2 separate regions of the Homo sapiens genome follow, and region 1 is linked to region 2. Evidence: fine-mapped QTL for protein levels in blood plasma. A gene starts in region 2. The other region holds a variant in brackets. All regions are shown on one strand. Distances are from middle to middle. Region 1 overlaps FSTL4 (follistatin like 4). Region 2 holds the start of FSTL4 (follistatin like 4).

The links. A credible set is the group of variants that fine-mapping cannot tell apart. PIP is the posterior inclusion probability: the model's chance that the variant is causal. Protein levels are from the aptamer-based SomaScan assay of Sun 2018.
Region 1: its variant is the best candidate, but not a certain one, in a credible set for the plasma level of the FSTL4 protein (Sun 2018, PIP 0.59).

What each region holds. Positions count from the first base shown.
Region 1 is chr5:133,318,351-133,323,861 of GRCh38, reverse strand. The region is part of intron 4 of FSTL4 (follistatin like 4); the gene reads left to right. Among named protein-coding and RNA genes, the nearest start is that of FSTL4-AS1, 65 kb to the right of the region's middle. RefSeq lists enhancers at 3,823-4,339, 4,340-4,857. The variant A/G (reference allele first, on the strand shown) is at 2,371.
Region 2 is chr5:133,610,249-133,615,248 of GRCh38, reverse strand. It overlaps FSTL4 (follistatin like 4), which reads left to right and starts at 2,708. Exons shown (of 16, transcript NM_015082.2): 1 at 2,708-2,924. RefSeq lists a silencer at 3,977-4,026.

The DNA of each region.
Region 1 (5,511 bases), 290 kb after region 2:
CATGGAGAACGGGCTTGATAAATGTAGTTCATTACCAAGTTCTGACATGAAAATAGGATCACACTCTGGGCTCCTCGGCAAGCTGATCAATATTTTATCTGCCAAAGCAGGCCTGGTCTGGGAGCAGGAGGAGCCCCACGCATGTGCTGGCAAGGAGCCTGAGGCCAGGGCCAGGGGCTGGCCAGGCCAGCCCTGTGGCATGGAGGGCACCCAGGCTGGCAGGAAGGTGGCTGAGCCCTTCACAGAGCCTGCCAATGACGCTGTCAGTGTCAGGCTTACCAGGACATGCAGCCTCTCTCCCCAAGAAGCCCCAGATGGGGCATGTGCACTGGCGGTCAGGAGGGAGGGAGAGGATCAGGACATCTTCTGTCTTCTGTTTAGCCATGAGCACTGATTTAGTTGCCAACCTGTCCCAGGCCCCACAGTAAAGGGGACAAAGACAAATGAGCCATACCCCTCCCTTGGGGCTTTGAGCCCATCTCACCAAGAGAAGACCCCAGGCCTCGCCAACCACTTGCTAAGTCCTCACATTTCCTTGTATGCTATGACCCTGGAAGGCAGTAAGAAGCTATTATTATCCCCATGTGAAGATAGGGAATAGGAGTAGGAAGGGCAGGGGAGTGAATGCCTTTCCTAAGGTCTCACAGCTGAAGTCAGGTGGTCTCCTGATCCTCCACCCAGTGTTCTGTCTGACCTTGTGGTGACTGTCATTAGCAGTGTTAATATCAGGTAGACACGGCAGCCTAAGATGAAGTCTGTGTCCCCCTGAAGACCTTAGACAAGGTTGTTATAGGGTGAGCCCATCACCCTGGCTCCAGCTTCATGAAAATGCCCTGGAGCCACAGGACTCTGGTCCTCTCATTCAACAAGCATTTCATACTGTAATGCTGCATGGGGAGCTGTCCACTTCAACTCCTGCCTGCTCAGAACATGTAATCCCATTAAGGGGACATAGCAGATGCTGAAAGCCGCCCATCCAGCTTCCCTCAGTCAACCCCAGAGGTGATGTGCAGCTTGGATGGACGATTCCCCATAACACTTGCCAAGAGCATCCAATCCCAGGCACCTGCAGCTTCAGCCTGAGGACATTTTCCGGTCTCAGGCGTGGACTCAGTCCTCATTTGGGAGGTCCAGAACTGCTAGCTGGAGGTGGTGAATTCCTCCAAGAGCAACCTCAGCTAATAGGGATGGAAGTCAGTAGAAAAATATCCTGGCTCCCTCCCACCTCAGTGAAGCAATTCTGCGGTGTGTTCTACACAGTCCCTCTGAGGACCCCATGGGATTGAACCCCCATTGCCCACGGCGGCAACCCACTCATGAGTGAACCCTTTGTTGGCTTTTCTCCCTTCCCAGTCTACTTCCTGTTCCTTCCAGCACTTCTTGGGATCATCTTCAAATATGCTGCTTGCCCCTAGATCCTCATCTCAGGGACTGCTTTGGGGGAGCCCAAACTAAGGCTGGGGCAAGCCTCACTCAGAAAGGATTTCATAGCAGGCAGAAAGGAAAGCTGAGGGAGAAGGCAGTCCCGTGTGGGTGTGTGTGGGTGTGTGGGTGTGGGTGTGTGTGGGGGTGTGTGTGTGTGTGGGTGTGTGGGTGTGGGTGGGTGTGGGTGGGTGTGGGGGTGTGTGTGTGTGTGGGTGTGTGTGTGTAAGTGGACAAGCTTCCTACAGACGAGGTGGATTGGGCCTGAAGACAGGAAGGGGGTGGGGCAGCATGAGAAAGCGCAGCTGTGTTCAGAGCATAGGGAATTTCCAGCTATGGAGGGGGCTTCCCTGAAATTCTCCAAACCTCACTGTAAGGCTTGACTTAGCCAAGGTTACCACAAAGGCAAAGACAAAATCCCCTTATTTAGAACAACACAAAGTTCTCTTTACCTGGAAACCAGCAAGACTCAGAGAAAACACTGAAATGACTTTCCAAACATGTGGGCAGAAACTTGTGCAGTCCAAATCACGGCGGTCCTGCCCACTCATGAAGCAGGTCCCCTGCGGGTCCCAACCTGGCAGCCCCTGCTGAGCCTCATTCAAGGCATGGACGTCAAGGTTATATGCAAGCATCCCACCTTTTCTCTGGAAGAGTCATGCCTCCGGATTAATCAATGCTGAAGTTCAACTGTATTCTGAGTCTCCCCATCCCAGGCTGAGTTAGAGAGGCCCTGGCAATGGGATCCGGGCCCCAGCTCAGGGCTCCTTATGGCATTCTCTCGAACCATTCTCTCGAACTCCTGACCTCAGGTAATCCACCTGCCTCGGCCTCCCAAAGTGCTAGGATTATAGGCGTGAGCCACCGCGCCCGGCCTGCCACTATCATTCTCAACATCATCTTGACCATCACCCACAGGGGCACCAGGGAGGAGTGGGGTGGTCCCCA[A/G]GCCTCTGCCACACACCCCAGGGACCTTCCCTCCGAAGGAGTAAAGTATCCTGTGGATCAAGGCTAAGGCTAAGACTGGACCCTGCCCCTGTCCGGAGAGATCTGATTCCCTCCCTACCTGGGAGCCAGGCCCAACACACACAGTGTCAGGGCACGGAGAGTGATGAAGGTAAGGGGTGCCAGCTTACATCAGGTGATGTTTAAGCAGAGGCCAAGATGAATACACCAGGTGGAGATTTGGGTGAATAGCACTCCAGCCAGGGGGATAGTCAATGCCAGGCCCCTGGGCAGGAGCATGCCCAGTGATCAGTGCTGCTGAAGTCCCCTTGGTCCCCCCATACCCCCCACCTCTCTTGTAGTCACCTGTGTGGAATTGCTGGGCAGGTGGGCAGGGCTGACTGGGGTGAAGATAAGAAAGACATGAACCTTGGGTGTTGACACTTTCTTGCCCAAAATGATTGGAATTTTTTTTTTTTTTTTTTTTTGAGACGGAGTCTCGCTCTGTCACCCAGGCTGGAGTGCAGTGGCGTGATCTCGGCTCACTGCAAGCTGTGCCTCCCGGGTTCATACCATTCTCCTGCCTCAGCCTCCCGAGTAGCTGGGACCACAGGCGCCCGCCACCATGCCTGGCTAATTTTTTGTATTTTTGGTAGAGACGGGGTTTCACCGTGTTAGCCAGGATGGTCTCAATCTCCTGACCTCGTGATCCGCCCGCCTCGGCCTCCCAAAGTGCTGGGATTACAGGCGTGAGCCACCACGCCCAGCCAATGATTGGAATTTGAGAAGAATAGGAGGAAGATCAGAAAACAGGTCTCGGAGCCCGCACAGCAGACGAGGGCTGGACTACGTGAAAGAGCTCATTTCAATAATGGGCTCAGTGTCACTCATGGAGAGGGCCCAGCTTCACATCTGGCCAGCAGTGTGTTGACAGCACCTGCATCTGGGAGGTGGATTTCGGGATGATTTATTTTCTTTTTCTTTATTTTTATTTGCACTTTCCAAGTGGTTCTCTGATGGGCATGTATTTCTTCTAGAATTAGACAAATGTTTGAAGCTGGAAGAGGGGAGGGAGCCTTTAGCTGAAGACATGTCCGGTGGTGTCCAAAATGCCCAGTGCTTCACACAGCTAAGTCACTCCTATCTGACCCCACAGTGAAACCAGCAGGGGGCAGGAATGTAAAAATAAAACTGGAATTTGGTAACCTATGACTTTGACACACCTTGCTAGGAAAATATCTATCCTGGAAGCCAAGGCCAGCTGTGAAGGAGGAAATCTATCCAGGGAGACTGAGCTGGAGGCTGCAGCTTTGGGGCATCTGCCTCTGGGGGCTGGAAGAAGGCAAGGAAGGAAGTTTTCCCTCCCCCACTCCACCTCAAGCCCTGTGGAATTCGGATGACAAAGGCAGGGAGTGAAGGCAGGGAGCCACCAAGAGGGCAGCCCTTGGAGATGAAGGCTCAAAAGCCTTCCCAAAAAGCGAGTTTGGACTTTGGGATCTCGAGTGATCATCTGCACAGAAGCAGAGCTCTGAGCATCAGGCTGCCTTTCCTCCAGGGTCCATGGCCCTTCCCCAGTGCTGTCGGGCACCAGAGGAGCTCAGTAATTTCGGACAAATGACTTCATGATTTAAGTTTGGGCAAAGTTCTCTCTTGCAACTCATTAAAGCACAGTTGCTCCTGGGGTAAAGAAGGATTTAAGATTCTGTTCCTGGAATCCCTTGGTTCATCTCAGGACCCCAGTGGCAAGCTTGGCCCAGGCATGGAGTGCCCTCAGTAAAGGGAAGAAATGACGAAGGAAGTTTTGAACAGCATGATGTACGGTGCCACACACTTCCCCAAGGCCTTGGAGGCTCTGCCTGGGTTGTCCCACTGCCCTCTCCTGCCTGTCTTGTTTCACTCTCCACCTGACTCAGCCCCTCTAGCCCAGCCACACCAGCTTTCACCAGTCTCCAGACGTGCCCCACCATGGCTCCTGCACGCGCAGTCCTGCTCCTGGCCTGCTCTTCCCTCTGCTTCCTCCCACAACTCCTCCTCCTACAGGTCTCATCCTGAACATCCCTCCCTTGGCCTCCCACCACAGGCACCCACAGTGCCCAGGACTGGAGGCTGCCCAGCATCGGGCACACAGTATGTAAATAAATACTGGTAAAAGGATGGGAGTGGCCTGGACAGTGTGGGCCCTAGCAGGGGGTGGGACCGTGGGCTCAGGGAGCTGATGCTGGAGACCTGGAGGGCCCACCCCTTTCCCCCAGATGATTGACTTCTAGACCTGCACATACCTTCCTGACCAGAAGGTGTCTGTTGGGCAGTTGCCAGGGTGAAGCAGCCAGAAGTCTGCGCTCACAGGCAGCTGTGAGGATGTGAGGTGGGGCCGAGCCTGGGGAGGATGCTGCAGCACCCCACTTCCATCCCAGCAAGACCCACCTGGATGGTTTCCCCCACCTGCCAGTGTTGGAGGTGTTGTCCAGCTGCAGACCCCTGCTCACAGGGGGACGCCAGTCCGTGTAGCTCTACAGACTTGAGAAATGGGTTTGCCAGCTGGTGACCCCAAGAACTCCCAGGGCGCTCTCCATGCTTAGGCCAGCCTGGCCACTGGGGTCCTGAGACGAAATAAGAGGCTCCCAGAAAGGAATCTTGCCCAGGGCAGCAGGCAGCTCAGAAGTGGTTTACGCCCCACCAAGGTCCAGGAGGAAGGTTGGGGGGATCTGCAAGGATGGGGCATCCTGCCCTTTTGACCCAGCCTGTCCTCACCTTCAGGTGGCCCTGCTGCAGCATGTTCTTCGGAGCCTGATTGTCCACCGGTGTTTCTGAGTACAGCCTCTTCCTGACACCATATCCACCTGCTGTGTACATCAATTTTTCAGTATCTGGGTATAAATGCCCCCCACTCCAGGAAGTCCTGGGGGCTGCAGAAATGCTGGCTCCTGCAGACCCTCCACACAGGCACACATCCATCTCCATTTACCCCAGCAGCTGGCCCCACCTCCACTTTCATTCTGTACCCCCACTTCTGGTCTATTTGCCAGGACAAAATTTCAGCCTCTTTCAGGGAGTGAGGAGCTAGACTCAGGCAAAACTATTCCTCCTCTTCCCCAAAACTTATCCTTATCCAGGCCCAGAAAAAGGAAAAACCCATCAAGTTTT
Region 2 (5,000 bases):
TTCTCACATGACTTCCCAGTCTGGCTTCTAATGGGTATTTCTAGGCACTGTTTGACCAGCCTAGTGGGGACTCCCAAGGGTAAGCTGACCCACAGTTAGTGATGCAGATACTTTTGGTTGGATCTGGAGAAAGTGCCTTGCTTCCTCCTGATTCCCATGGCTATGTGTCATCTCTGAGTATCCTGATATGCAGGTGTAATCTGAAATGTCCTAAGAGACACACATCATTTGGCAGTAGTTTTTCATTATATTGTTGTGTTTTTGGTAAGGATTAGAAATAGAAAAAAGATTTTAAACCAGCAACGTAAAAAAATATTTGGGTTGCTTAAACTTTTTGATCTTGTAAAAGTATATTAATAATGTTTTTATGTGTGTCTCTGGCTGAACCACTCACCAAAAACAGAGTGGGGCTGGGGGGCAGTAACTGGAATTTATGTTTCCTTTTAGCTCCCCTATTCCAAGCTTATTGAATTACATGAAGTTCAAAACTTAACCATTATTTCCCCTAAGAATCCTAGTTGGCTATTGAGAATCAGTATGCTTGCAAGTTCTGAAACAGGGTTTCAGGCAAATTTTGAAATTCTCAGTGTGAAATCTAGCCTATTTTCCAATTTGGGGTGTACTATTAAACAAAAAATTACACTGAGAGGTAAAAGCACAGAGCAATTCAAAGAGGTGTCAAGGTTACTGGCATCTGATGCTGCTTCCCTGGAGCCTTGTTTTATTTTGTCATTCACACTTCACCTTTCTCATTCCGAGGTGACTTTTAATTTCACTCTTATTTTATGCACAGTAGTTAAACAGCTCACTTCAGATGTTAGCATTCTCTCTAAGGAATATTCCATACATCTGGTTTGCAGCAACTACCTTCTTCTCCTTCTTTGGGAAGCGTGTAGAAGTTCAGTGCCTGTTCACTGCATTAAACAGAGCTATTTCTGATCTTGGTCAACCTATAGACCCTGATTTACATATGACCTTGAGTTACTAAAAAACAAAAAATACACAAAGTCCTGCTTTGATTATGTAATAAGGCCACTAGGTTGACTCAGGGACTTTGTGATCAGAGCTGAGAATAGAAATCTGCTTTTCCAAATACCTCATGTCTTAGAGGAGAGCCGAATCCAGCCTCTAAGCCATGGTGTACGTTCCTGACCACAGACTTAGAATTACATTTCAGAGGGAGGCACAGCACATTTCCAAACTTCCCTGCTTCCTTTTATACTCATTTTCTCTTTTCTGTTTCCCAAGATGAAAAGTGCCATCCCTTCCCCAGTCCTGCCATGGAGAATCTGGCCCCTAGCCAGCCCCAGAAGTTCAGTCATGGTGGCCTTGGCAAAGATTCATAGTCAAATCTGAGAGAGGATCACACTGGCTAGGGCCCAGGGTCACTGAGGATGTAGTAGCCTTTATCCTTCTGAGTAAAAATCATGGTATCCACATGGGAAGTCAACCAGGTTTTGTCCAACCCCTCATTTTACAAGTGGGGAAACTGATACCTACAGTAGAGATACGATTGGCTCTGCATTACATAGCTTGGCAGTGATAGAGGGAGAGCTGGACCCCAGACCAAAACTGTGTGATGCCAAGACCGCGCTGGCCCATTCACTGCTGTATCTCTAGCAACTATTAATAGCACAGTGCCTGCTGCATTGGAGGGGTTCAGCGGCAGGAAAATCTGTGGAAGGAAAAAACAAACGTAATATCTCTTTCTTCAGGTCAGCCTTCCATTATTCTTCCCCTTTTCCTTATATTTAACTAACTTCATCCTCAGAAAAATCCCCTCTGTCACCTCCCCCCGGCCAGGAGAGATTACAGAGGCATGGACAGAACACTGTTCACCTAAGCCAGGAAGGCCCCTGGTGCCCACGCAGCCAGAGCAGGAGGCAGGCCCTCAGAAAGTCTCCTGGCCATCAGCCTGGCCTGGGTAGGGGCTCCCTCCTAAGTTTCCTGCCAGACTGAGGCTACGTATGACCATTTATGGGCCCCTAGTTGTTACAAAGGTGTTTCCAGTTCATTCGGGAAGGAAGACTGATCTCAAAAGCTGCTGATGTTAAAGAGGGATTCAGAAAAGTTTGGGAGCCCCAGGCTTGGGGATGGGATCAGGATGGGGAAATATCCTGTTCTAAGGGAGAAGGGACCCTCTGGGCCCAGCTAGGTCAGGTAGGCAAATGTCACTTGGGATTGCCCCTGTATGCCCTGAATGTCTTAAGATTCTGTAGTTGGAAGAGGGAAGATTCAGAAAAGAGAAAACCTTTGCTGTTTCCCAGGTTGTTGGGTCTCAACGGCGGGGGATTTCACCCACTTTGTCCCCAGGGACAGCTCTCCTGCTGTGGTGTACCGGCCCGCCTGGACTCCACGAGCAATGGCCGCGGATTCAGAGACCCCCTGTGCGCCTGGAGAGCACAGCTTTGGGGAACCTGGCCCGGAAAGGAGCCTGGAGGAGAGCAGAGGTGAAGAGGGGCTGTCACTTGCCGAGCTCCACGCTAGCCAGAGGCAGGAGCGCTACGCTGGCCCTCCTCCCTCCGGGCCCTAGATGGCCCCAGCGCTCCGGAGTCATCGCGCCCCGCGTGCGCGCCCGCCTGCTCCGCGCACCTGCCGTGGCCGCCGCGCGGGTCTGACCGGCTGGCGGGCGGGCGGCGCGCACAGGTGGCGGCGATTGGGCAGGCGGGGCCCAGAGGGTGACGTCACGGGCTCCGGTCCCGGCGGCAGAAATAGGGCAGCCGCGGCGGCGGTGGCACAGCAGCGGGCAGCGGCGGCTCAGGGAGCTGGAGCCTCAACAGCCTCCAGCGAGCCCGGGACCCGCCGACAGCCCGAGAAACCAGCCGAAGGACGCGGGGCGGGGTCGCCGCCGCCGCCACGGGGTGCTCCCTCCCTCCCGCCCAAGTCCGGCCACCTGGTCTTCCCCTCGGCCCCGGCCGTCTCAGGTACGCGGGCGCAGCTCCCAGCGGGCGCGGGGAGGGTGCCATGTCGCTGGCGCCGCCACCAGCCGGTCCCGCTGCACCCCACTGGGGTCCTGGCGCCCGCGGCCCCGCATCTTGCTGCAGGGCCCGGCGCGGGCGCTTGCTTGTCCTTACTGCCCGCGCCGGGAAAGCCAAGTTTGCCCGCGGGGAAGGGACCGCTGGGCCAGGGCTCGGCAGGGCTACCCCGGCCAAGGCCAGGACTCGAGGAGAGGCTGGGACGCCGAGGCTCGTGGCCGGGGTCTACGGTGGGGACCGGAGTGACCCGGTTGGCACGCGGGGCGCCACGCAGAAGCGCTCGGGCCGAGCCCGCAGCTCGCGCCCGGCTCCGAAATCCTGCAGGCGCCGTTCTTGGGTTCAGGACCCCGAGCGGCCCCGGCGGAGCCAGGCGAGCGCGGCCCCTCGGCCCGGGCCCGGTGCCCTTGGCTCCGGGTTGGGGCGCCGGGCAGGCATTCTCAGCACCTCCTCCCCGCGGCTTTGCGGGGAAACTTGCGTCTCCTCGCTGCAGCCCAAAGGGCCCGCTGCGCTTCGCCTGGCCCTGGCTTCCCCGGGGTCCGCCGCATGTGAGGCTGGGGAGGAAGGAATCAGGGCACGACCCGACTCCAGGCAGCCTGCGGCGCTGCTTGTGCGTAGCCGGCCGCGGTCCAGAGTGAGCGGCCCGGGGTACCCGCTTGAACGTGTCTAGGGAGCAGTGTGTTGGGGGCGTTCAGCGTTCGGGCTGGGGGCTTGGTCCTAAGAGAGCTTGCACTGTGGATGATCTCCGCCCTCTTTGCGCCCGCAAAACAAAGACGAGTTCTGAGTTTCAGGAGGGACCTGGACGAGGCAGGCACAGCACTCTGCTTTCGGCGCCTGTCGCCTCGAGTTTGGGGACGAGCTGACGCTAGTCTTTGGGGCTCCCTGCAGCCGACAAAGCGGCGCCAACCCCAGGCCTGCCACCTGAGGACTTTGTGCCCGCAACTCTTGCGGGAGCGGAAAGCCGCCGAGGCAGTGGGGTTTCTTGTTTTCCAGAGCGCGGCGAGCCTCCGCGCGGCGCGGCAAGTGCACTAGGAGTGCGCGGGTCAGCGGGGCGGGCCCGGCGAGGTCGGTGTCGCGGCTCGAGAGCGGGTGCCGGGGCGCTGTCCAGCAGCCCTCGCTCGCGGCCGCGGGCCGCCGACACTGATGAATGGCGCGGCCACAGCCCGCCGCTCCCCTCTAGGTGTCGCTTCCGCCGAGCTTTCCTCCAGTGAAAAACAGCGCCGGCAGCTTGGTCTGTTACCTTCGTAAATTTGTTGCAAGCCTGTGCACCAGGAATTGTACTAGATGGGGCCCCCGAGATACAAACATCCGTCCAGGTTCTCTGGGCCAAACGTAAACAGAATTTCAATAGGTGGTGAAGTAACTGCCAGCCAAAATGTTCACCGGGAATGGGCCTGTGTCACAATCTGTGAGGGGAAAAGACGGATCAGTGAGCGACTAGGACTCTTCTTGAAAGTCCTAAGTTATTTTCCTACTGCCAAATTTAGGGGAAACCAGCGATGCTTTTTAATAGTGTCTTCTTAATCCTGGGAGCCAGGCGCCAGTTTCTGTGCCTGCCCCTCTGGCCCCCAGGACAGACTCTGGGTCTGGTTGGCGGGGGGTCCACCTGGGAAGGGAATGGTCGGAGGTGTGAGTGATGCAGCTTCTGAGACTCCAGAGCCACAGCAACTCTCAGGCAGGAGCTCAAGCCGGACATACGAGCAGATGCCCTACAGGGCACGTGTCTGCTTCCCATCTTAGCGTTGTGAGAAGGAGGCACTGCAGCATCACTAGACCATTTCTGCCATACTCTGCTAAATGTTCGCTTTTTCCCTCCCATCCTAGGAAAAAAAGGCACCACCCTCTCCAAAGACTTCAGACTGAGCCAAAGTTCACATAAGAAAATAGTCCACTTTGATGTAATGTATTTAAATTGCTCGTTAGAGTTGTCCTAGTGCTTTTTTCTCTCTTAGACTTTTATGATCATCCTCAATTTTTGTTGATTCTAGGAAAGCTCTTTTTCTTCTGGAAAAGGCCAGCTTGTTTTTC